Regions from separate parts of the Homo sapiens genome. Here regions 1 and 3 are each linked to region 2. Evidence: fine-mapped expression QTL. A gene starts in region 2. Each other region holds a variant in brackets. All regions are shown on one strand. Distances are between the middles of the regions.

Region 1 (8,181 bases), 60 kb after region 2:
AAAAAAAAGAAGAAATGAATGAAAGAGGAGTAGAAAGGGGGTTCCAAGGAAATTGAGTGGGGATGGCCGCAGGGTGTGCGTGGAGGATGGGTTGTATGGAGCAAAGGGCACATGAGCAGCAAGGCTCCAGAAAACACCCCAAGAGAAACTTAGAGAAGGATGCTTGCAGCCTGGTAGAAGAGAGAATCAGAATTTGTCTGAAAAAACATGTTGGAGGTGTCAGAAAGAATGGTGTCAAAGGTGAAGGAAACTTGGGGGTTGAATGGAGATGAAGAAATCTCCTCATGTGGCGAAACTCAACTGAAAGTTGACACGCATATGACTAACCCAGAAAGCAAGGGACACAGCCCAGCCCAGGGAAGAGCTGGAGAAACAGGCGAGGGAGTGGAAATGAGTTGTTTGCTGTGCAGGAAGAAACTGGGTGGAGATGAATGTCAGGGGCAGTTTCTGGCTTGTTTGATGCTAGGCTGGGGCACTTATGTAATGACAAGTTGTAAGGACTATCTTAAAATAACAACAATAATAACAATAACAAAAAGAGAGCTGGAGTGTTTACTGACAGCTGCCGCATGCCAGGCAGGAGAATGAGGATGGCTACGGGATGGAAAAGATGAGGGTCCTGGATGGGTTTCCCTAACTTACGTAGGTGGTTCAGGGGGCCCAGGAAACTCACTGTTAAAGGATTTGGGGAACTCGATCCAGCAACTCCACTCTTCTAGAAACTTCCCCTGTACTTCTGATTCAGGGTCTGACTGATGAGCTTAGGTCTGTATGGGGAGTCAGATCCCGGCTGGAGACCCAATGCTATGAAGTCAGGTATCTCTGTCCCAAATGCACAAAGTTGCACGAGACATTCACCAAGCACATTAATAAAGCAAAATAAGAAGTTCTTCCTTTCCCAGGCATCAACAGTAACTGACAGAAGAATCTGAGCTGAAAAACCAATAGCACCACCAGTGTGCATATGACACCCATAAACCTGCTTCCTGTGGAGAGCTTCCTAATTGGACAGTTTAGAGACCTCTCTCCTATATCCAAACACTGCATCTCATCCATGATCCAGACAGGATATACATCAGGAGCTGCTGTATCCTTCTAGCCAAGTGTGACCTAAAGACTCCTGGTTGTCATGCCCCCAATTCACACCTAGGAAATGATGGAAATATACCCTAGGCTGCACTCATGTGCGTGTGCGTGCAGACACACACTCTCACACACACACACACTCACACACACACAGAGGACACTAATGTGCAAAACTTCAGAGCTCAGGAACCACATTTCCTGCCATGCTGTTCATTCAGGAGTGAGACTTAGGCTGATGACCAGAAACAGGGCAAAAGATGCAGACGGAGTCTGGATGGGCCTCAGATCTCTGGTTCTGGTCTTTTCTCAGGCTAAGCAGCATCCCTGTCTCCCTCATCAACAATTTTCTTGCTCAATAAAAAAAAGCCTGGGCAACATAGTGAGACCCCATCTCTATGAACAATAAAAAAATTAGCTGGGCATGGAGTCACACATCCTTGTGGTCCCAGCTACTCAAGTAGCTGAAATGGGAGGATCGCTTGAGCCCAGGAGGTTGAGGCTGCAATGAGCCATGATCATGCGAATGCACTCCAGCCTGGGAGATGAGTTAAGACTCTGTCTCAAAACAAACAAACAAATGACAACAACAACAAAATCTCAGGCCGGGTGCAGTGGCTCATGCCTATAATCCCAGCACTTTGGGAGGCCAAGGCAGGAGGATCACGAGGTCAGGAGATCGAGACCAGCCTGGACAGCCTGGTGAAGCCCTGTCTCTACTGAAAATACAAAAAATAAGCTGGGCATGGTGGTGCATGCCTGTAGTCCCAGCTACGCAGGAGGCTGAGGCAGGAGAATTGCTTGAATCTGGGAGGTGGAGGTTGCAGTGAGCCAAGATCATGCCACTGCACTCCAGCCTGGGCGACAGAGCTAGACTCTGTCTCAAAAAAACCCCCAAAAAACAATAAAACCCAAAACAATTTTCTTGGACCCGTGAGTCAATGAATTCCCCTTCTGGGCTAATTTCACTTGTGCTGGGGCTCTGTCTCTTATCATCAAATCAATATACCCAGGCTGGTGAAATCACAGTGTGAGCTTTTGCCAAAAATAATCTAGCTGGCAGAGGAAGAGAGGCATGCTCCCTATAGCAGAAGGGGGCTAGTGAGGATCTGGGTATTTGTGGCCCATGAGTGCTTGCTCTTGGCTTTGGAAGTATCCTGGTGAGTATTGCCATAGGTCACAGCAGGAGCCCTAAAAGGAAGACACTCGATTAAGCTGGAAATTTGGGGCTTTGATCGGGGCTTTGATCAGTTCCTTTGATCAGTTCCTTTGATCTTTGGTAAACACTACCATGAACGCTGGGCACAGTAGTGATGCTGCCATTTCCTTGACCACAGCAGAGGTTTATATTTGGGTAAGGGAGGCATTGGAGACAGCTGGGCAGGGGGCTGGGGGGAAAGGTAGCTGCTGTCTAAACTGCAACTTCAGTAACTATGACCATGAATATGATTGCAGGTTTGACTGCTCATTTAGAGGGCTTGTCATTCGGAGGAGGGCTTTAGCTGATCTAGGGGACAGTCAGAGACATGCAATACATATGACTCAAGAGGCCGTCTGGTGTGACACGCAATCAGGAATAGCTCTGCAATTCTGCTGGATTAGGTCATAAAAGCATCTCCCAAAAGAAAAGTGTATGAGATGTCAGTGGTCTAGTAGGTCATACGTCTGCAAACAGTGGGATGGCCATCAGATCCCATTTGGGACAGTCGTGGTTTACACCTACTATGTTGGTGTAATTATTAATAGCACCCCCTTTCACGCTCAGAAGTATCTGGTTTGAATGGTAAATTCTGTGGTCCCCTAGTGGACAGAAAACTTGATGTGTCACATAGAAGGGAGAATTGGGTCTTGAGGTTCCTATGCGGAAGAGGAATGGTGACTTCTGCTCCGATGAGTGCAGGAAGCCCCAGGGAGCAGGGAGCGGAGGGGAGGAGGGAAGGGACACCTCTAGGAAGAAAGAGAACAAAATGAAACTACTGTCCAGTGTTGATGGGAAAAAAGAGGAAGTTATCAGGGACAGACAAAGGGTGTGGAAAAAAATGAGAAGCCACAAGAAAACTGCTGAGGACAGAATGGGTGGACTCACTGGTGAGCTCAGAACCACAAGGACATGTGTTCCCCAGCACAGCAAGGATGACCTTGGAGGAGGCTAGTGTCACAGAGGGCGACACAGAGTGGGTCATGGAGACAGAACCAGACTGGGCAGAATCCAGGGCTTGAGTCACTCGCTGCAG[A/G]CAGTCATGTCAGGGTGTGTCACTGCCAGGGACCAGAGCTCTGCAGGGATGATGACAAATGGATTTGGGCCAGCAAGGTCTGGGTCAAGGGAGCAAGATAGTTTCTTCTTCTGTCACCCATAATGATGAGTCCCTTAAGGAAAGGCTGTGCCATCCATTTCTGGCTCCCCTGCACTTATTACTGTGCCAAGCACATGATATATAGTCAACGAATTGATATATCAATGAATATCTGAGAAAATAAAGGGAGGAAAGCAAGAGTAAAACATGGAAATACAGGAAGTGGCACCGAAGCAGAAACATGTAGAAAGGACAGAAAAAGTGAAGCCAAGAATTGAAAAAACAGAGACCCCAGGAAGTGGTGAGAGAAAGGAACTGAAAATGGGACTGTGTATGTACCATGAAGGCTAAAGGCCCAGGCTGCAGGGCTGGAAAACTCAAGACACAACATGGGAAAAGAATGAAAATTATAGTTTCTTGTGTCATGGGAATTTGAACGAAATCAGTTGGTGAGAACTTCTTTGTTTGATGGGATTAGTGAAGACAGCACGTTCACTCAACATGTGTCAAAGTAATTTAAAGCCAAAAAGTAGGCCGAGTATGGTGGCTCACATCTGTAGTCTTAGCTACTTGGGAAGCTGAGGTGGGAGGATTGCTTGAACCCAAGAGGTTGAGGCTGCAGTGAGCTATGGTTGTACCACTGCACTCCAGCCTGGGTGACAGAGTGAGCCCATCTCAAATAGATAAACAAATAAACACATAAATAAATAGGCCCGGCGCCGTGGCTCGTGCCTGTAATCCCAGCACTTTGGGAGGCCGAGGCCATCGGATCATGAGGTCAGGAGTTAGAGACCAGTCTGACCAATATGGTGAAATCCTGTCTCTACTAAAAATACAAAAATTAGCCTGGCATGATGGCGTGCACCTGTAGGCCCAGCTACTTGGCAGGCTGAGGCAGGAGAATTGCTGCTGGTCTCCAACTCCTGACCTCAAGAAATCTGCCTGCCTTGGCCTCCCAAAGTGCTGGGATCACAGGTGTGAGCCACTGTGCCCAGCCAATGTGAGTGTTTTTTTGACCTCACTGTTTTGCTGACTATCTTGATCTCCCGCCTGCCATAAAACTCTATGCTGGAACCAGCCAAGGCTATGTTGAACAGGTATAGGAACCTGCTAATATTCATGACAAAAGTCCCTTCTTGAAGATGGATTTCTAATGAATGTCTGGGAATTTCTGATCATTTCAGGCATGAAATCTACACTTTTAGAGAATGGAATTAAGTGAGGAGAAATTAATACAGTAGAGACATCGAAGCACTAGAAAGGAAGTAAGGGAATGTTTATTTATCAAATACCTGTGAAGTGACAGGCAAAGTACTATACACTGTTTTTCTCGTTTGCTCTCTTTCCTTTGACATAGTTTTTTTCACCCCCAAATCCAGGCCCTCTTCGGAAGATACTTCAATGACTCAAGAAAACAAACCTATGATCTCAGATTTTCCCTTTTGGAGGGAGTAAAGTGTGTGTCATAGGGATGGAGCTGGTCCCGGGCTAATTTATGATAGAGAACAAGGTTTTTCCCCGGTTAAGACATGAGACACCACCTACCCCAACCCCTATCTGATCTCCATTCTTACTTTTTTTTTTTTTTAGATGGAGTCTCGCCCTATCACCCAGGCTGGAGTGCAATGGCCTGATCTTGGCTCACTGCAACCTCCGCCTCCTGGGTTCAAGTGATTCTCCTGCCCCAGCCTCCAGAGTAGCTGGGATTACAGGCACCTGCCACCACACCCAGCTAATTTTTTGTATCTTTAGTAGAGACAGGGTTTCACCATGTTGGCCAGGCTGATCTCGAACTCCTGACCTCGTGGTCCACCTGCCTTGGCCACCCAAAGACATGAGCCACTGCGCCCAGCCTCCATTCTCACTTTCTTGTCCTGTTTCTTGGTACAACTTACTTGACTTATAGTAAAGTAGCCAGGGAGGGAGGGAGTGTGATATATTTCTCAAGAATATGTATAATTTGAATGAAAACTGGAGTGAAGGCAATGCCTGACTAGGGGGAATGAATGGTGGATGCCAAAATTTCAGGCATTGTAGGGAAAAGCATTCTCTAGGAAGAATGCAAGACTCCCAAGCCCCTCAAAGCACACTGTGTAGGTGACTGTATGCTCCACCTGTCTGTAAGTTTGGTCCAGGGCAAAGGGGATGTTGCTGTCAGCTTTTTGCATCTCAGACTTCTGCCAGCCTTCATATAGATCAGTTAGAAGCAGCTTCCAGATGCCTAGAGGGTGACTGGCTCCCACAGTGGTCCGGGACTTGGCTGGCTCTGTGCTCTGCAAACAGAACTGCACTCTGTGCTATCCAGAGTTCTGTGGATTCCCCTTTTCTCCATCATCCTCACTGGTCTACATTCTCTAATTCTCCCAGAGTATAAAATATTGAACGTGGGTTGCTAAAGATGGAATGTTTATGCCCTCCTCACCCACCCAATGAGCGGTTCACATGTTGAAACTGAATCCCCAATGTAGTGGTATTTGAAGATGGGGCCTTTGGGAGGTGATTAAGTTGTGAGTGTGGAACCCTAACAGAGAAGACTGGATGTCTATAAACAAGGAAATGGGCCCTCACCAGACACTGAATCTACTGGCACCTTGATCTTAGACCTCCCAGCCTCCAAAACTGTGAGAAATAAATGCTTGTTGTTTATAAGCTGCCAGATCTGTAGTATCTTGTTATTGCAACCCAAACAGACAAAGACATTGGCAAACCTTGGGAAGAGTTTTGCTCGATTAGCTAAAGTACATAAAAGGTCCCTGAAATAATGCAGCCCTGGACTCTGCGTAGAGGAAGATGCTCCAAGTTCTGCTATACTAAGAATGCAAGCACATCACACTCTTGCTTGGAGAGACTGATTTGTTTGCATATTTGAAAGTTGTAAGTTTATAAGATGAGCTTCTGGATTTGTTCCACAGTTTGTTCAAAGTTTCACTGCTTGAAAAGCTAAGATTCCATTTCAAATAGAGAAAAGGGGGTGTGGCCGGGCACAGAGGTTCACACCTGTAATCCCAGCACTTTGGCAGGCTGAGGTGGTGGGATCATTTGAGATCAGGAGTTCGAGACCAGCTTGACCTACATAGTGAAACCCCATCTCTACTAAAAGACAAAAATTAGCCGGGCATGGTGGCAGGTGCCTGTAATCCCAGCTACTCAGGAGGTTGAGGCAGGAGAATCGCTTGAACCCAGGAGGTGAAGGTTGCAGTGAGCCGAGATTGCGCCACTGCACTCCAGCCTGGGCAACAGAGCAAGACTCCCTCTCAAAAAAGAAAAAGGAAAAAACAGGGCGTGAGACCTCAGCTCTCTGGCCACCTGATATAAATCATTTGGTCAATCCAAGACCACAACTGGGTTCTAGCCAGTGGGCACAATAAGACACCATTGGAGTGAGTATGCAGGGGGAATCACTCTAGCGTGCAGTTCTGTTTGCAGGGCCAGAGAGAGAAATTTCCCCAACCTGCACTGGCCACTGTTGAGCTGTTTGAATGTACTCCAAGCGCCTTACCCTAACCACTTCCTTCCCTGCCTTCCCTTGCTTTCCCTGCCAATCTCAAAACACTACAGTATTAACACTTAAGACTTTGGAGAAATGAGAGGTCTTAATCTGAAAAAAACGATGCTAATTCTAAACTGCTGCACTTTTAATGAGCTATTTAGAACTAATAGCAATTTGAACTAATTATAATAGTTTAGCGCTGTTTGTCGAGTCTTGTGGCTGTAAAACCCTGAACACTGAACTGAGAATATGCTATGAGGTAAAAGAGTCACTGAATTTCAAAGCAGAAAGAGACTTCTCAGAGGATTTAGTAGAAGGCTGTTAATTCACAGCTGTAGAGACAGTCTTTCAAGAAGGTAAGCTGATGGCCTAAAAGACCCAGGGCCACTAAGAGTCAAAAACAGAGCAAGAGCATGGGTGCTTCTGATAGCTGGCTCAGCCCTATTACTTATTTTCTTTCTTTTTGTAGAGATGGGGTCTCACTCTGTTCCCCAGGCTAGTCTCAAACTCCTGGCCTCAAGCAGTTCACATGCCTTGGCCTCCCAAAGTATTGAGATGACAGGTGTGAGCCACTGTGCCTGGCCCCAGCCCTATTTCTACTACAATATGGCTCAAAAGAAACTGAAGAAAAGCTTATTACATTATAGTGCAGAATGGGAGGATGAGGATGGATGAATTCAAGTTATAGGTATTTTTGAAAATGAGATATAAGAAGTTTAAGATAGATTGATAAGCAATAGGGACACCATAAAGCTTTCAGCCTAGAGGATTTGTCCTAAAAATTTAACAAAATGCTCCCATGGAGGCCCATTTGGCCAGAGAATGTGAGACAAACACTGTCATCCAAGCAACTTTGGTGCGATGCTATCATTGCGTGCCCAGAGAGCAATAGGCCAAGCTACCCCCTTGTCTAGGACACTCTGATGCACAAGTACAGAATTCTTGAAAAACAGAACTCTGGATGGATTTGAAGGAAATGAGGCAATTGGAAGTCAGTTTGATATAGAACAAAGAGTCACAAACTTTGGAATTGGACAAAGTCAGATCCAAGGCTTACTACAGTGTGATTTTAACCCCTTGAATCTTAGATTCCTCACCTGTAAAATGGAATTAAGAGTATTCAGCCATGAAAATGTAAATTAGTACAACCACTATGGAACACAGTATGTAGATTCCTTAAAGAACTAAAAGTAGAACCACCATTCGATCCAGCAATCCCACAACTGGGTATCTACCCAAAGGAAAAGAAGGGATTATATGAAAAAGACACATACACATGCATGTTTTGAACAGCACCGTTCACAATTGCAAAGA
Region 2 (8,181 bases):
ATTTGGATTTCCAAACTACAAATTACAAACCCATTAATGTCCCAACCTATGAGATGGAGCAAGCTTCTTCAGGTAAACTGCAATCGGTTACAGCCTTATTTGCAAATGCATTTTGCTTGCTTCAAACAGCTTCTAGAGAGCTGTTTCGTAATGTGCTTTAGGATCACTTCCAGAATAACCCCCTATGGTTGTGTGCACTGTGGCTCAAGGGACTTCTCATTGGTAGGTTTAAAACTCACTTAGCTCGCCCCTAGAAGAGCAGGATTGTTTTTGTAAGCCTGCATAAAAAACAAAAAGCCAGACCAGAAAAATGCAAGGAGTCTAGGCAAGGTGGCTCACGCCTGTAATCCCAGTACTTTGGGAGGCTGAGGCGGGCAGATCGCTTGAGCTCAGAAATTTGAGACCAGCCTGGGCAACATGGCAAAACCCCGTCTCTAACGCTACCCAAAATACAAAAATTAGCCGGGTGTGGTGGCATGCGCCTGTAGTTCCAGCTATCTGGGAGGCTGAGGTGGGAGGATCACTTGAGCCAGGGAGGTGGAGGTTGCAGTGAGCTGAGATCGCCCCACTGCAGTCCAGCCAGGGCGACAGATCCAGAACCTGTCTCAAATACATCATACATACATACATACATACATACATACATACATACATACATACAGGGAGTCCACAGACTTTTTCTTTCTTTTCAGTTGCTCTCTCCCTTTTGGCCTCCTTGTTAAAAACTCTACATACGTTTTCAAGTAAAACCTTCTAATTTACCCCAACAGATGAACCTGCTCTGGATTAAGCCAGAAGCAAGAGAGAACCCTGCTAGACCAGCCATTTCACCAGCTCCCTAAAATGCAGCTATATTTGGGAGACTTCTGTGTAGGAAGTAAGGCTAATAATGCAGTTCCCAGAAGATTAGGTGTGGTTTTAATGAGCTCACACAAGGCGGGTGGGGAGGGGAGTGGTTCCATGGTTCTATTTTTAAAACTCGTGTAAAGATCATCCTTTGTTGTCTAAACACGGCAGTAGAGAAAGAGACGTCTCTGTTTCTCACGTTACAATCAGAGGTAACAACCTGTGCTAACCTGGTTTCCAGCGAAAAGGCCAAAAGTGTACTGATAACTTCGGCTTCAGCTGAGACTGGGATAACCCGCTTGAGCCAGTGCCAAATTCCACCCATCCGGCGCGCAAGCGAGCGGGGCTTCTCCTCCCCAACCCCGGCCCAGGCTGCTTCTGCCGGGTCAGTGCTGCCGGGTTGGTGGAAGCTGCCTTCCCTCCCTCCAAGATCAGAAAGGCGGAGGGTTCAGGAAGGGGTTCTCCTCTAGGTGCAAGGGACTGCCTGGATATTTGGAGGGAATGGCAAAGCCCTGCTTCATGAGGTGAATGAATATAAATTAAATCGCTCTCGTATTTAAAATAACTTGACGGATGACAGTGCCCATTCAGTCAATCGGCCCTCGACGTTGGATTTGCTACCTGGGCTTGTTGTCTGCGAGTTAAGGTCCTGCAAAAAGCCCCTGGCTTGTCACCTCAACTAACCTATCTCCTCCAGCAATTCTCTCAATACATCCTCGGGTTGTATTGTAATTCATTTTCCATAGCAGAAATGTGGAGGGCTCTAGAGAAGGTACAAGGCAAATTTTTTTTTTAAATTTTATTTTTGGTTGGCCGCGGTGGCTCACGCCTGTAATCCCAGCCCTTTGGGAGGCTGAGGCGGACGAATCACCTGATATCGGGAGTTTGAGACCAGCCTGACCAACATGGAGAAACCCCATCTCTACTAAAAATACAAAATTAGCCGGGCGTGGTGGCGCATGCCTGTAATCCCAGCTACTCGGGAGGCTGAGGCAGGAGAATCGCTTGAACCAGGGAGGCGGAGGTTGTGGTGAGCCCAGATCGCTCCATTGCACCCCAGCCTGGGCAACAAGAACGAAACTCAGTCTCAAAAATTTTTTTGTTTTATTTTATTTTTTAAATTTGAGACAAGGCCTCGCTCTGTCGCCCAGGCTGGAGTGCCATGGCGCAATCATAGCTCACGGCAGACTCGAACTGCTGGGCTCAAGGGATCCCCCTACCTCAGCTTCCGAGGAGCTAGGATGACACGCGTGAGCCACCATGCCTGGCTAATTTTTAGATTTTTTGTAGAGACGGGGTAGCTATGTTGCCCAGGCTGGTCTCCAACTCCTGACCTCAAGTGATCCTCCCGCCTCGGCCTCCAAAGCGCTGGGATTACAGGCGTGCGCAACCGCGCGGAGGCAATCTAGAAACTGCAGAGGGAGCACGGACCTGGGCACTGGGAAGAATAGGGCGTGGACTTGGAGTGTGACCGCGTTTGAATCTGGGTTGTGCCTGGGACACCCCACCTCCTGGGCCGTAGGTGGGGGGGGAGAGAGAGAGAGAGAGAGAGAGAGAGAGAGGATGTCGACCTTACATGGCTCCTAGCTCTCCGCGCTCTAGCCGAATGCCTGGTTCCTAGTGGGTGCTTGATACGTGGGAAATGTAGGGGGAGGGGGTGGCGGGGCATTGGGAATGTCCCGCAGAGTGGATTTCGGGAGAGTGGCGCTTTTCTCTAGAACTCTCTTCCGGTTACACCTGGAGTAAAAGCTTGACACTCTAGAAGGAAAACCCCAGATGAGCAGCTAGGACTGAGGGTTAGCGGTAGGCGGGAGCGGGGAGATAGTACAAGTACGCTTCCTAATGAGGCGGTGCCGCAAAATAACCAATTTTAATAAAGACTGCAGAGAAGAAAACCAGGTTCTGCTGGCGGAGTGCACAGGCTCCCAGCCGAGCGCCCAACAACCAGGTTCCGGGCCCACCCTGCCGCAGCCTCTTGGAAATCTCTAAGTTGGAATGTGTGCGTGCGCACCACGGGTCACTGCCCTCTTTGTGTGTGAATTTGAAGCGAAATCTGGGCGAGGCGGGGCCGTGCTACTAGCAATCGGACCCACAGTCGCGGTTCCAAGAAGCCCCGAAGCTTCCCCGGCTTCCCGCAGCACTGCTGGGAGGGCACACGGCGCCTCTGTCCCCACCCCAGAGCGTGGGGCGCGCGGAAAAAGGTCTGGTGACTGCCCTCCCCGCCGCCCCCCGGGAGCGTGCCCTCCCGCCGGACCCTGGGACTCCAGAGAAGCGCCGAGGGCGCGAGTACACTAAGATATACGACCTTCCCTGGGGACCGGGAAGGGCACAACCACCTCTTGCAACTCCGCCACTAAGACGCCTTGGGTCACCAGGCCCGGGGGAAAACTCGTCCCCGTCCCAGGCTCTCGATTCGGGCCGCAGCTCACGTCCCGCGCTCCTCCCTGCGCGCCGCTCTGCTCCTCCCTAGTCCCGCCTCCAGCTCCGCCCGGGCGCCCAGAGGGCAAATGAGGGGCGGCGGGGTGGCGGGTGGGGGGGAGACGCGGAATTTCCCAGCGCGGGGGCTCTGGCTTACCCTGCAACCGGGCAGTCTCTTTCTGTTTACGGAGAGAAAGGGGAAATGGAAAAGTCGGGGAGGCGGTGGCTGGCGTCCGCTGCGCCGCCCCTGGGCAGGCTCAGACGCCGTGAGTCAGGGGCAGAGCAGGGCGGTCTGAGCGTGCGGGCGACGCGGGTCTCACTCGTCCGCTCCGCTCTGGACTGCGCGCCACGCTCTGGGGTCCGGCGCCCTGGTTCCTGCTTCTGCCGCTGCCGCCGCCGGATCCCAGTGGCCCGGCGTGCTCGGCTCCCACAGGCCTGCAGCCAGCATCGCACCGAACCTTCGGGGGGCCGCGGCTGGAGCGCTCGGCCGGCGTGGGAGCGCCAAGGCCGCAGGTAATCCAGGGTTGGGGGTCTCCGGCGTGTCTTTCGGGTCGCGTCCCGCCTGGGTGCCCCGGGGATTCCCATGCAGAAATGGAGGGTGCCCCCAGCAGAGGGGAAAACTCTGGCGTGGGAAGAGGTGGGGGCGTGCCCACAGCTGCGCTCGCGGGTCGCCGGCTGCACCAGGCACAGCTGGAAAGCACCTTGCGCAAGGGTCTCACGGGGTGCAGACTCGCGACTCCTCCCCCTTCCTCCTCCTTCCCGTATCCGCAGCGCCAGGGCAGTGCTGGTCTGGGCAGTGCGCGGGGAAGCGGGGACCCGCTGTCACTGCGCCTCCCGCTGCCGACGCCGCCTGGACGGCCGCACTCTCCCTGCCCGAGACCCGGTGAGTGCAGCTCGGAGGCTGGAGGACCCGATCCTCCCAAATGCTGGGTGCTTTGATAATTTATAAGCCTTTTAGGCTCCCTTGACTTAGAGAACCAGGAGGAAAGGAGTGGGAGTGTGGGTTGGCGGAGCCCAGAGACTTGTGAATGGCTGGAACTAAATTCAAGTTTGTAACCCGGACTCTATCCCATGACTAAAGAGGTCATAGCAGAACACGAAGGCTGGGCTTTTGGTCTAAGAAAGAATACTAGGAGAAAAAAAAAGTTATTTTCACGGAAGTTGTTTTCGAGCGATAGTGCATGATCAGGACTCTGAAATTTTTCTAGCTCTGGGCGGAGAAGGACGCCTAGGGATTGTCTCCATAGTTAACAGGGGAAGGCCACCGGCTGCCTGTAAGAGAGAAACGTTGCGATGCTTGTCTATTTCACTTTTGGGAAGACAAGATTAAAGGCTGCTCTTGATAAAAAACAGGGACAGAAAGGCTCTTGCAGTTGCTTTACATACCTGTGGCCTGAGTCGTTTGTGCCAAGGAGAGTGTAATCCACTTCCAGCTGACGCCCCCAGCTCTCTGCGACGGATTGAGGTTTGTGTGCAGGACGTCTGGCATACGGCCCATGAGGACTTTGTCGTGTAAAGCAAATGGGAACGTTGAGGCATGTAGAGGTTTTGAAGCAGAGTGTCGGTCCTTCCTTCCATACGCCTGAAACGCATAATCCGGGGCTTTTTGAGAGCAAAAACATAGTCAGAAATGTGCCCTGAGGGAGAATGTACTATTTTGGCACACATATGTATATATGTATATATAATTTTTAAATTTTTTTTGAGAGGGGGTTTCACTCTTGTCGCCCAGGCTGGAGCGCAATGGCGCGATCTCGGCTCACTGCAACCTCCACCTCCCGGGTTCAAGCGATTCTCTTGCCTCAGCCTCCCGAGTAGCTGGGATTACAGGCGCCCGCCGCCACGCCCGGCTAATTTTTGTAGAGACAGGGTTTCACCATGTTGGCCAGGCTGGTCTTGAACTCCTGACCTCAGGTGATGCACCCTCCTTGGCCTCCCAAAGTGCTGAGATTACAGGCATGAGCCACTGTGCCCGGCCTAAAAAAATATTTTAAATGAGAAATAACACAAGTAATAGTCATTCTTTGTTAGGCAGAAGCATATGCTGTTATGCTGGCCATTTTCATTCACACTTGCCAGGAAACACTCACATTTTGTTTCTGTATATGGAGGCAGCCAAGAGTATTATGTTAATGTTTAGGAAGAGAATTTCCTCGTGATTTTATTGCTGATTTCTGAAATAATTCAGTGTAACTAATTTTGACTGTATTTGCACATCTCTCCAATTCCAAAAGCTGGCATAATTTTCTGTTTGGTTAGGAAGTAGGAATTTTATGAGGACTTTTATTGTAAACTGTGTCAAGGGAAAAATCATCTTATACTAAACGTCTTTATTGCCAAACTAGAATACCTTCACAATCTGAACTTTCTCTAGATGGGCACAGATCATGAATAACTCAGAAACCATTAGCATATTGTGTGCTTAATTAAGGCTGGAAAGTGCTGAGGCTTTTTGCAGGCGCAGTTAGCAGGCGAACTGGTCAGCAGGGTTTCTGGGGAACGTAGATTTGCGTGACAGGGGCCCTGTGTTGCTAAGGAATTACTGCAGGCACTGAGAAAAGTCTCAGCGTCAGACACTCCTCCACCTCCCGGGTCCTGCTTCCCTCCCTCTCCCCTTTCCAGGCAACTCACAGTTTAGGGGTGTGGTTGTGTGTGTTCAAGCTCTTGGGTTTTACATATAAATGCCTGAGACTTTTCTGCAGGGTTTAAAAACTAACATCTTGTCTTACAGCTCTTTTAGGATTTGTCTTTTAGAATCTCCAGTCCTCACAGGAAAACCCCCCAATTAAAAAAATAAAAGAATAAAGAATAAAAAGAATACCACTACTACTATAAAAAAAAAAAAAATCCTCTAAAATTTGTCTTCCCAGATCAGCAGAGTGAATTTGAACTGTGTGGACTTTTTTCCTCTTTCTTTCTTGAGTCATGTTAGTACTGAGAACTTTTTTTTTTTCTGTCAAATCATCTGTTTGATAAATAAGTCCAGGAGACTTGGATCCTTTCAACCCCTGAGGCCCTAAATTAGGCTGTTTTTTTTTTAACCTCTGTGTTTCCAGTAAATTCGACAAGCAGAAACTGCAACTAAACGGCTCAGTAAAACCGAAGTCAAATGTTCCTCCATTAATCTAAGAAGTTGCTCTCCTAACTCAGCAGACTCCAAGAACCTGAATCACAATCTCCCTCGAAGATGTACAAGATCTCAGGAGGGGAAGCTGCCCCCTCACTCTAGATTTCACGGTGGTGATAACAGCCATGAAAGCATTTCATAGGTTTCTGCCTTTTTTTTCTCTCTCTTTATGTCTTGTTTTAGATGCAATCTTCTTACCGCGAAGAAGCCAGGGGAATAGGTAGCCACATCTTGTTTGCAGATAAGAAAGGAAGCTAACGCAGTATCTGCAAAGCCAGGAGTCTGACTCAGTACTTTTCTCACTCATGCATACAAAGCAGCTAAAAATGACACAGCTTATTTACCATGCCCCTGACACTGCACTGAGCACTTTATGAGCTTGAACTCTGTTAATCCTCACGACCACCTCATGAGGTAGGTGCTGTTATTACTTCCATTTTACAGATGGGGAAAATTGAGGTCGAGAGAGGTTACGTTACTTGCTCAACGTCATGCAAGCAGTAAATGGGAGTGTGGGGGGAGGCAATGAGATTTGACTCCAAGCAGTCTGAGACCAGAGGAATGTTGGATTGCAGGATGCTAAACTGCTTTCCTCAGACACAATTCATACGTCAGAAAATGACCATCAAGTAAGTGAATGATGACACTAAATTGCATGGTTCTTTTGTCAAATGAAATTCACTGAGAGGCAGATGGCTGGGTCATGCGTGCAGGTGGCTCTGCAGTGGAGCATTTCCTGGAGCTTTGAAATGAAGCTCCAGATTGATCAGACGTGCGTGGCTTTAGCCCTGAGTGTCCTGTGTGTTAAAGGCTTGTGCTTCTCAGAACTTGAAATACCTTTCAGAAAGAGGCTATGCTTTTGGGAGTGCAATCGGTGATTTAAGTAAACCAATGTGCCTTGAAATTCTCTTAGATCTCTTAGGGCCTTTTGTCTTTTCTCCTTCAGAACAGAGTTGTTCTAAAATCCTGAGTAACAACGTCAGTTTTTACCCTTGCTTTACTTTCTTTTTCTCATCTACAGATCTCCAAGTGTGGCAGCTGATTTGTATATAAGAGCTGAAATGCAATTTTGGTTAATATAGTCACTTGGACTTGCTTATGATAAATTTGACTTTCCTGGCTTCTTTCTACTACTCACAGCTTCTAGAAGGCCATTTATTTAGATATTAATCTTCTGGGACCCTCAAGATGTTTGCTTTGCACTATTAAAGAATTCTGGTCCTAAGGGAGGACAGCTGAATCATAGGTTAAATGTATCATCATCTTTCTCATACTCATCACTGGGAGAACAAGGTTTCCTGTCATCCTTCCAATTAGCTGTTTAACTCATTTGCATAAGAATCATTCCTGAAACTTGACCTATTGCCATCAAATTTGTGTAGATTGAAATCCATTTTTCCAGCTTCTGGCTTTCAGGGCCTGAGTTTTATTTGCCAAGTTAGCTCCTGCATTTAGTGAAGAGGTTATTTTTCTTTAAAGTCACCAGAGGCATAAAAAAGCCATAGCGATTCTTGCAGGGAGGGTGCCACTTCGGGGGAATAGCTGGGTTGTGTAAGGTTGGAAGCCCTAAAGAGCCGGTAGCCTAAGGTCTTCAAAGATTTCTGAGCTGCTCTTGATTCGTGTGTATGTTTAGTGAAAGTTTGTTTTCAGTGCCTGTAGCTGATACCACTGACTCTGTGAGTAAGAGTAAGCTCTCTGGATCTCAGGTTTCCCTCTGCAAAGTGAGCTGGACTAAAGGTTATCTTAGGTCCCTTTCAACTCTGCACTGTCAACTTGAATTCATACACACA
Region 3 (8,181 bases), 24 kb after region 2:
ATCCTTGCTTTTGTGAATATTACTGAAGTTATTATTGAAAATGCTCGAGCGAGGATTCTTGACGGTTGTCTTTGAGCAGAACAATATTCAGAAGGGAAGCTGTACTTTTTTTTTTTTTTTAAGAATGCTTAGTCCCCAGATCTTAAGAATACTTTACCAAAGTGTGAGGTCTAATAAGACTTAATGCTTACGACATGTTTTCTTTGGAAAATGTTTCAGCATATTTGGCATTAGTCAGGAGTTCAGATATGTAATATTCCACCACCCTTTTTCCTGGAACCAGTTTGAAAAACAAACTATTTATGGTATTAAAGATGGAAAATACTTTTCTCTTCCTGGCAATGTGGTGAAGTTGAACATTTTGCAACATTGGAGAAAGAAGTGTTCTTTCTGGGGCTGTCTAGCGGAATGCATGGATATGAGATAATAACATATTTTACTCCTGAGTAGTATTTGGATCAGGTTTTTTTTGGCAAATGCAAATTGCTTTTTGTGAAGTGCAAAACTGTGCCTTGGTGTTTATAAATATAAACTCTCTTCTAATCAGCCTGCATTTAATATCTGCCTAGTACACACGAGTTGAAGTTTGATAATGAACAAAGTTGTGAAGTGACCAGTGAAACCTTTCAACAAGCTTGCTTTTACCCTTCCTACTTAAAGAGCCAGGAGATCTAATTAGTCAACTGTGCAGACTGGCTGATGTTAGAATTTGATCATGTGGCTACTGCACAGTCATAGACAATTTCTGATTTCTGCAGTATAGCTCCCAAATGCAAACCCTGGTTACCCCTGTTTGATTGCTCTCTCTAAGCATTGGTATTCAGAGCATTCTATTGTAACCATGTAATACACATCCAGGGTTAATCCAGCATATACAGAATAGACTGTTTTTGAGTTGCAAGGTACAGAGAGAGAATACATAGTGAATGCGAATAACAAATCAGAATTACTTTTAGAACTTGGTCCTTTTTGAAAAATCCTTCTAAGTCTGCTTGGTTTTACCTTTGTAAGTTAACATATAGTCATCACATGCACATATACGCACACACACGGTCTCTTTCCCTTTCTAATAAACATATTGAAAGGTGAAGGGTTCGATCGCTGACATCAAGGTTTTCTCTTGCTCCAGTGCCCTGCCCCGAGGGTGCAGAACTCTCAGAGAGCCCTGTGTTGGTCCCACCAGGGCTGTTTCATGCCTTCTAATCAGCCAGAGTGCTCGAACATTATGCCCTGCTGCTCCCTGATCTAACTGGTAGTTGGTAGAGCTTGAGGAACAAGAGCTCCGAGCCAGGAAGCTCTGGGGTTTCTACCTGAGTGGCAGCACCCAGGCCACCAGGCTTACAGATGTTCCATCCCCCCAGGCTGCCTAGGCGTGCAGTCACATAGAACCTGCAGAGCCACCTCTGCACAACCCCTGTGGGCTACACCAGCAGTGGGCACTCCGCCCAATCCTTGCTTTATTGGCAGGGAGGAGGGGGTACAGGAGAGAAGATAGGCATCCTCTATGGACAGTTAATAATACCCATTGCATTTCTTTTTCTTTTTTATTTGATTGTGGTAAGAACACTTAGCATGAACTCTACCCTCTCAACACATTTTTAAGTATACAATACACTATTGTTGACTATAGGTACAATGTTGTGCATTAATTTTTTAAGTTTGTGATATATTTAGTAGCAAAGTCCTTCTGGAAAGTCCTCTGGCTCTGCTGCAGGGAAAGCTTGAGAACGGGAGCTCAGTTTCACCTGTTTGCTGAGAGCAAAAGGAAGCTGGCCCGGAAGTGGCTTGCAGGAAGGAGTTGAGCAGGGTTAGGGTGGGGAGACTGGGCAGTTTCTCTGGTTTTTGTAAGCTAGTTCTCTAATTACTTACCCTGAAATGTGTTCCGGAAACACTGACCTCCATTCTCTTATTCACATGGCAGACAGTGTACAAGCTGTTTCAAGCGAAATACTGATAATCAGGATATTAACTACTATATGTCTGCACCAGCCATGAATACAAATCACTGGTCACCAGTGTTTGCTCTGTTCCTTTTTAAAAAAATGTTTAATTAAATTAGGTAACTAATTAATTTGTAAAGATGGGGGGTCTCCATCTTGTCCAGACTAGTCTCAAACTCCTGGGCTCAAGCAATCTTCCTGCCTCGGCCTTCCAAAGTGCTGAGATTCAGTGGCTCACGCCTGTAATCCCCACACTTTGGGAGGCCGAGGCAGGTGGATCACGAGGTCAGGAGTTCGAGACCAGCCTGGCCAACATGGTGAAACCCCATCTCTACTAAAAATACAAAAATTAGCCAGGCGTGGTAGCACATGCCTGTAATCCCAGCTAGTTGGGAGGCCGAAGCAGGAGAATAGCTTGAACCCGGGAGGCAGAGGTTGCAGTGAACCGAGATCGCACCATTGCATTCCAGCCTGGGTGACAGAGGGAGACCCCATCTCGAAAAAAAAAAAAAGCCAAAGTGCTGAGATTATAGACATGAGCCACCATGCCCCACCTCTCTTTGTTTCTTTCTTAAGTTTAGAAATAAATGCTCGTTAGAGAAACTATTTATAAAACCAGCCCTGTTTATTCAGCATGGACTCATGAGACCAAATATAACTTATACAATGTTAATATGGCTGCATTTAATATTTAGTCACTGGGCTACATAGTAGGTAAAAATAACAGATAGTTTGTAAAAATGACTCTTTAGAATCACTTCTACAATATTACACTTTATTTTTTAAGTTTTTCCCTTTCAAGAAATTTGTGTTAATACCCTATAGACTTCTATCACCTTTTATCATTGCAGATATTTAGAAGGTTAGCAGTGTAATGACAAACAGATAAAGAAGTCTGTTTGTAGTTCATTTAAATATAAAAGGAATTGGCGTTTTAGTTGAAAACTTAGCTACACCTGATCAGTGTACTGCAGAACTTTGATGAGTGGGAGTCCCTGATAGATTCCTGGTTCTAGGCTCTTTGCCACCAGATCAACCAGAAAAAGGTGGTGTTTTGTTTTGTTTTGTTTTGTTTTTTGAGACTGAGTCTCGCTCTGTCTCCCAGGCTGGAGTGCAGTGGTGCGATCTCGGCTCACAGCAGCCTCCGCCTTCCGAGCTCAAGCGATTCTCCTTGCCTCAGCCTCCCAAGTAGATGGGATTACAGGTGCCCATCACCATGCCCAGCTGATTTTTGTATTTTTAGTAGAGACCAGGCTGGTTTTGAACTCCTGATCCGCCCACCTCAGCTGGGATTATAGGTGTGAGCCACCGCGCCCGGCCAGGTGTTCTTCATCAGACTGCAGGGACACCTCCAGCAATTGCTGCATGGTTCCTGGGGAATGCCTGCATTATTCTCCTAGTTTAAGGCAAATGAGCCAATTTCCAGAACTGGATTAGGGAAATGGAAACCCACACAAAGGAGGGGAATGAAGCTGAATGTTTCCCACTTCTTTTTCAGATTTACATGAGCCCAGAGGTCATCCTGTGCAGGGGCCATTCAACCAAAGCAGACATCTACAGCCTGGGGGCCACGCTCATCCACATGCAGACGGGCACCCCACCCTGGGTGAAGCGCTACCCTCGCTCAGCCTATCCCTCCTACCTGTACATAGTAAGTGGGGTTCAACCAGGGCTGGGGGCGGCGGGGGGGGGCGTTGAGTTATGCATCCCGCAGGCTTGGGAGGGACTGCTCTGCCTTCTATACCACCCCCATCTGAATGAGGCAATGGTGAAATGACAGGTAGCTACAAGTTCTTCCCATGTAGAAGCAAGCTCCATTCTTGCAAAGAAAACATAGCTATTTTAGTGGGAGCTTACTAAAATGTGCATTGGGCATAATTTATGCTATTCCATTGTATGTGTAATAATGCAACACTACTTAGTAGCATCAGAGTAGCATAAATATTTCAGCAAAGGAAGTTGTATGTGTTCTTTGAACAGTTAAAACATTTTTTATTATTAATGTTCACACCAGTGTGGCTTGTAGTGGAACATGCAATTCCCATTTTACTGTTGATAAATTCAGGAGCAGACACTTCCCTGTTACTGCACAGTGACTTTTGGGACACTGATTTGAAGCTGTCACTGACATTCAAACCTATCACTTATCTTTTGTAACATTAAATCAGAAGATGGGTTTAACCTGGTATCCTTTAGAAATTAAAGTGGGCCAAGCACGGTGGCTCACGCCTGTAATCTCAGCACTTTAGAAAGCCAAAACAAAAGGATCTCTTGAGCCCAGAAATTCAAGACCAGCCTGGGCAACAAAGCAAGACCCCATCGCTACAAAAAATTAAAAAAATTAGCTAGGTGTGGTGGTGTATGCCCTGTGGTCCCAGTTGCATGGGAGGCTGAGGTGAGAGGATCACTTGAGCCCAGGAGTTCGAGGCTACGGTGAGTTGTGTTGGTGCCACTGTACTCCAGCCTGGATGACAGAGCAAAGACCCTGTCTCAAAAGGAAAAGAAAAAAGAAATTAAAGGGAAGCTTGCTTGCTTAAGGGCTGAACTGCATTCGTTGCAGGGCATGTGGTGGAAAACGGATTACTTTCTAGGTCCTGGTACTAGCATGCTTTTGCTGTTGAGGGTGTATCACCATACCTTTGATGCTAAGAGAGCTGGTTTGTTGATAGATCCACAAGCAAGCACCTCCACTGGAAGACATTGCAGATGACTGCAGTCCAGGGATGAGAGAGCTGATAGAAGCTTCCCTGGAGAGAAACCCCAATCACCGCCCAAGAGCCGCAGACCTACTAAAACATGAGGCCCTGAACCCGCCCAGAGAGGATCAGCCACGCTGTCAGAGTCTGGACTCTGCCCTCTTGGAGCGCAAGAGGCTGCTGAGTAGGAAGGAGCTGGAACTTCCTGAGAACATTGCTGGTAGGGACACCCTGCTGTGTGCCGCACACTTACTTCCCTTCTCTTTCTGTCCACATCAAACCTCTGA[T/C]GTAGTTCATGAAAGCACTTGGAAAAAAAGGAAATGACTTCTTGAGTACCATACCTTGCTTGAGAAATTTCAGCAAGATTAGCAGAAGCATGTTTTTTTTTTTAAATTGGCTAATTTAGCACCAAATTATAACAGATTTTCAGTGCAAGTGTAGGTAGCACAGTCACTGGAAAATGCTTCTGACTTGCTTTTTTGCAACTTGCTTTTTTACAACTTTTGTCTTTGAAAACAGATTGAGCATGACAGCTTTGCAGTTGGTTCTTCTTAACTCACTTTTTTTTTCTTTTTTTTTGAGATGGAGTCTTGCTCTGTTGCCGAGGCTGGAGTGCAGTGGCATGATCTTGGGTCACTGCAACCTCTGCCTCCCGGTTTCAAGTGATTCTCATGCCTCAGCCTCCTGAGTAGCTGGGATTACAGGTGCCCACCACCACGTCTGGCTAATTTTTGTATTTTTAGTAGAGATGGGGTTTCACCGTGTTGGCCAGGCTGGTCTCGAACTCCTGACCTCAGGCAATCCACCTGCCTTGGCCTCCCAAAGTGTGGGGATTACAGGCGTGAGCAACCATGCCCAGCCTAACTCATTTATATTAAGCCACCCCAGTCCTTGGTGGGGGAACATCATGGCACTGCCCTGCACAGATAAAATACTCAGTTTGAAGTCAACTTGCATTTCCATCTTCCTTGGCTTAAAATCTTGCCAGTTGTAAATTTTTCCCACTTAGGAAAGTCAGTATGCTTTCCAGGAGCATTGAATATGCATAAAGAGGGATTTCCATTTTTATTAAAAGTCTGTGGCATTCTTAATCCATTTAGGTCCAAACCGAGATGTCAAGCCTGGTGCGCTTGTTTATATTTCTTTGCTGCTTGTCTAACTTTTGTGTATTTAAAGAGAGCAATCTGGCTGTTGGAAAAATATGCCAGGATTTCTAACTAATTTCTTGTCTCCATTGACTCCTGTTTGAACTTTTTGTTCTATGTCATATTATGTGAACTTAGCCATAGTGTTCAAAGACCCATCTTTCACGCTTAAGACACTGTTTTATTAGGCCCCAAAGATTTATTTCACTGCAGAAGGAACAGGTATTTATCATTTGACACGTTTTCTTGTTACTTACTTTGTAATGTTTTCCTTTTCAGATTCTTCGTGCACAGGAAGCACCGAGGAATCTGAGATGCTCAAGAGGCAACGCTCTCTCTACATCGACCTCGGCGCTCTGGCTGGCTACTTCAATCTTGTTCGGGGACCACCAACGCTTGAATATGGCTGAAGGATGCCATGTTTGCTCTAAATTAAGACAGCATTGATCTCCTGGAGGCTGGTTCTGCTGCCTCTACACAGGGGCCCTGTACAGTGAATGGTGCCATTTTCGAAGGAGCAGTGTGACCTCCTGTGACCCGTGAATGTGCCTCCAAGCGGCCCTGTGTGTTTGACATGTGAAGCTATTTGATATGCACCAGGTCTCAAGGTTCTCATTTCTCAGGTGACGTGATTCTAAGGCAGGAATTTGAGAGTTCACAGAAGGATCGTGTCTGCTGACTGTTTCATTCACTGTGCACTTTGCTCAAAATTTTAAAAATACCAATCACAAGGATAATAGAGTAGCCTAAAATTACTATTCTTGGTTCTTATTTAAGTATGGAATATTCATTTTACTCAGAATAGCTGTTTTGTGTATATTGGTGTATATTATATAACTCTTTGAGCCTTTATTGGTAAATTCTGGTATACATTGAATTCATTATAATTTGGGTGACTAGAACAACTTGAAGATTGTAGCAATAAGCTGGACTAGTGTCCTAAAAATGGCTAACTGATGAATTAGAAGCCATCTGACAGCAGGCCACTAGTGACAGTTTCTTTTGTGTTCCTATGGAAACATTTTATACTGTACATGCTATGCTGAAGACATTCAAAACGTGATGTTTTGAATGTGGATAAAACTGTGTAAACCACATAATTTTTGTACATCCCAAAGGATGAGAATGTGACCTTTAAGAAAAATGAAAACTTTTGTAAATTATTGATGATTTTGTAATTCTTATGACTAAATTTTCTTTTAAGCATTTGTATATTAAAATAGCATACTGTGTATGTTTTATATCAAATGCCTTCATGAATCTTTCATACATATATATATTTGTAACATTGTAAAGTATGTGAGTAGTCTTATGTAAAGTATGTTTTTACATTATGCAAATAAAACCCAATACTTTTGTCCAATGTGGTTGGTCAAATCAACTGAATAAATTCAGTATTTTGCCTTAGTTGTTGTGAAGCCTGTGATTCTCAGCTGGGACTGAGGATGGGCTATAGGAGTTGAGTTATAGATTGGAAGGAAATGTGTATCATAAGAAGGCAAAAAATACCAGGAGCTTTGCAAATTGTATTAATACACTCCTTTTCTATTGCTCTTGTATGAAGCTATTGTCAGCTGGAATGGTTTGCATCCCCCGGTACATTGAGGTAGAAAAAACAATTGTGGTTGTGCCTGTAATCCCAGCACTTTGGGATGCTGAAGCGGGAAAACTGGTTGAGCCCAAGAGTTCAAGACCAGCCTGGCCAACATGATGAAATCCCATCTCTACAAAAAATACAAAAATTTGCCAGGTGTGATGGTGCATGCCTGTAGTCCCAGCTACTCAGGTGGCTGAGATGTGAGGATCACTTAAGCCTGGGAGGCGAAGGTTGCAGTGAGCCAAGATCATGCCACACTACACTCCAGCCTGGATAACAGAGGGAGGCCTTGTCCCTGCTAAAAATAAAATAATAATTGTGTGCCACTGGTTTAGGGTTATGTGGTTCTATTTTGCACCCTGTTTTTATATATTTATACTATCCTTGAATACACGCTTGCATACTCTTTGCCCATTGTTATGTGGCAAGCTAATAACTAGCCATTGTAGAAGGTGGCTTTAACTCACATACATCAACTCTAGTGAAAACTGTTGAATGGAAGTCTGTCATCTACATAGCAAATAGTATTAAACACTTTTACATGTGTTGTGTAAAACATGCCATCCCTTGTAATCCATGTAAACACACATGAAATATGCATTGCTACCTCTTTTTTCTCAGAGAAGGAAATTGAGGCATAGTGAGGGTAAGTAACGTTATCCTCAAGACCGCAAAGCAAGTGAAGAAACAGCTGGTATTTAAACCCAGTCCTTTCTGGCTCCAGTACACATGTTCTCCCTCGTACGTTGCTGCTTGTAAGTGAGAGATCAACACTGCAGAGGAAACAATTTCCTTTTCTGCCC

Alleles and levels. Alleles are on the strand shown, and positions count from the first base shown. SD is a standard deviation of normalised expression in the study named. Not every link is listed here.
For the expression in monocytes of the gene that starts at base 3,583 in region 2, G is the low allele of the variant in region 1 and A is the other (moderate effect, 0.50 SD a copy in Quach 2016).

What was found.
Region 1: its variant is fine-mapped to the expression of MAP3K8 in monocytes (Quach 2016, PIP 0.95).
Region 3: its variant is fine-mapped to the expression of MAP3K8 in whole blood (TOPMed, PIP above 0.99). The same link has a PIP of 0.9 or more in neutrophils.

The regions. Positions count from the first base shown.
Region 1 is chr10:30,491,079-30,499,259 of GRCh38, forward strand. No RefSeq gene overlaps it. Among named protein-coding and RNA genes, the nearest start is that of MAP3K8, 61 kb to the left of the region's middle. The variant A/G (reference allele first, on the strand shown) is at 3,318.
Region 2 is chr10:30,430,602-30,438,782 of GRCh38, forward strand. It overlaps MAP3K8 (mitogen-activated protein kinase kinase kinase 8), which reads left to right and starts at 3,583. Exons shown (of 9, transcript NM_005204.4): 1 at 3,583-3,777; 2 at 6,575-6,805. RefSeq lists enhancers at 1,003-1,062, 1,570-2,451, 3,123-3,262, 3,983-4,082, 4,373-4,422 and 4 more and a silencer at 3,303-3,542.
Region 3 is chr10:30,454,646-30,462,826 of GRCh38, forward strand. MAP3K8 (mitogen-activated protein kinase kinase kinase 8) reads left to right here. Exons shown (of 9, transcript NM_005204.4): 7 at 3,439-3,591; 8 at 4,610-4,856; 9 at 6,061-7,188. The coding sequence ends at 6,191. Among named protein-coding and RNA genes, the nearest start is that of MAP3K8, 25 kb to the left of the region's middle. The variant T/C (reference allele first, on the strand shown) is at 4,924.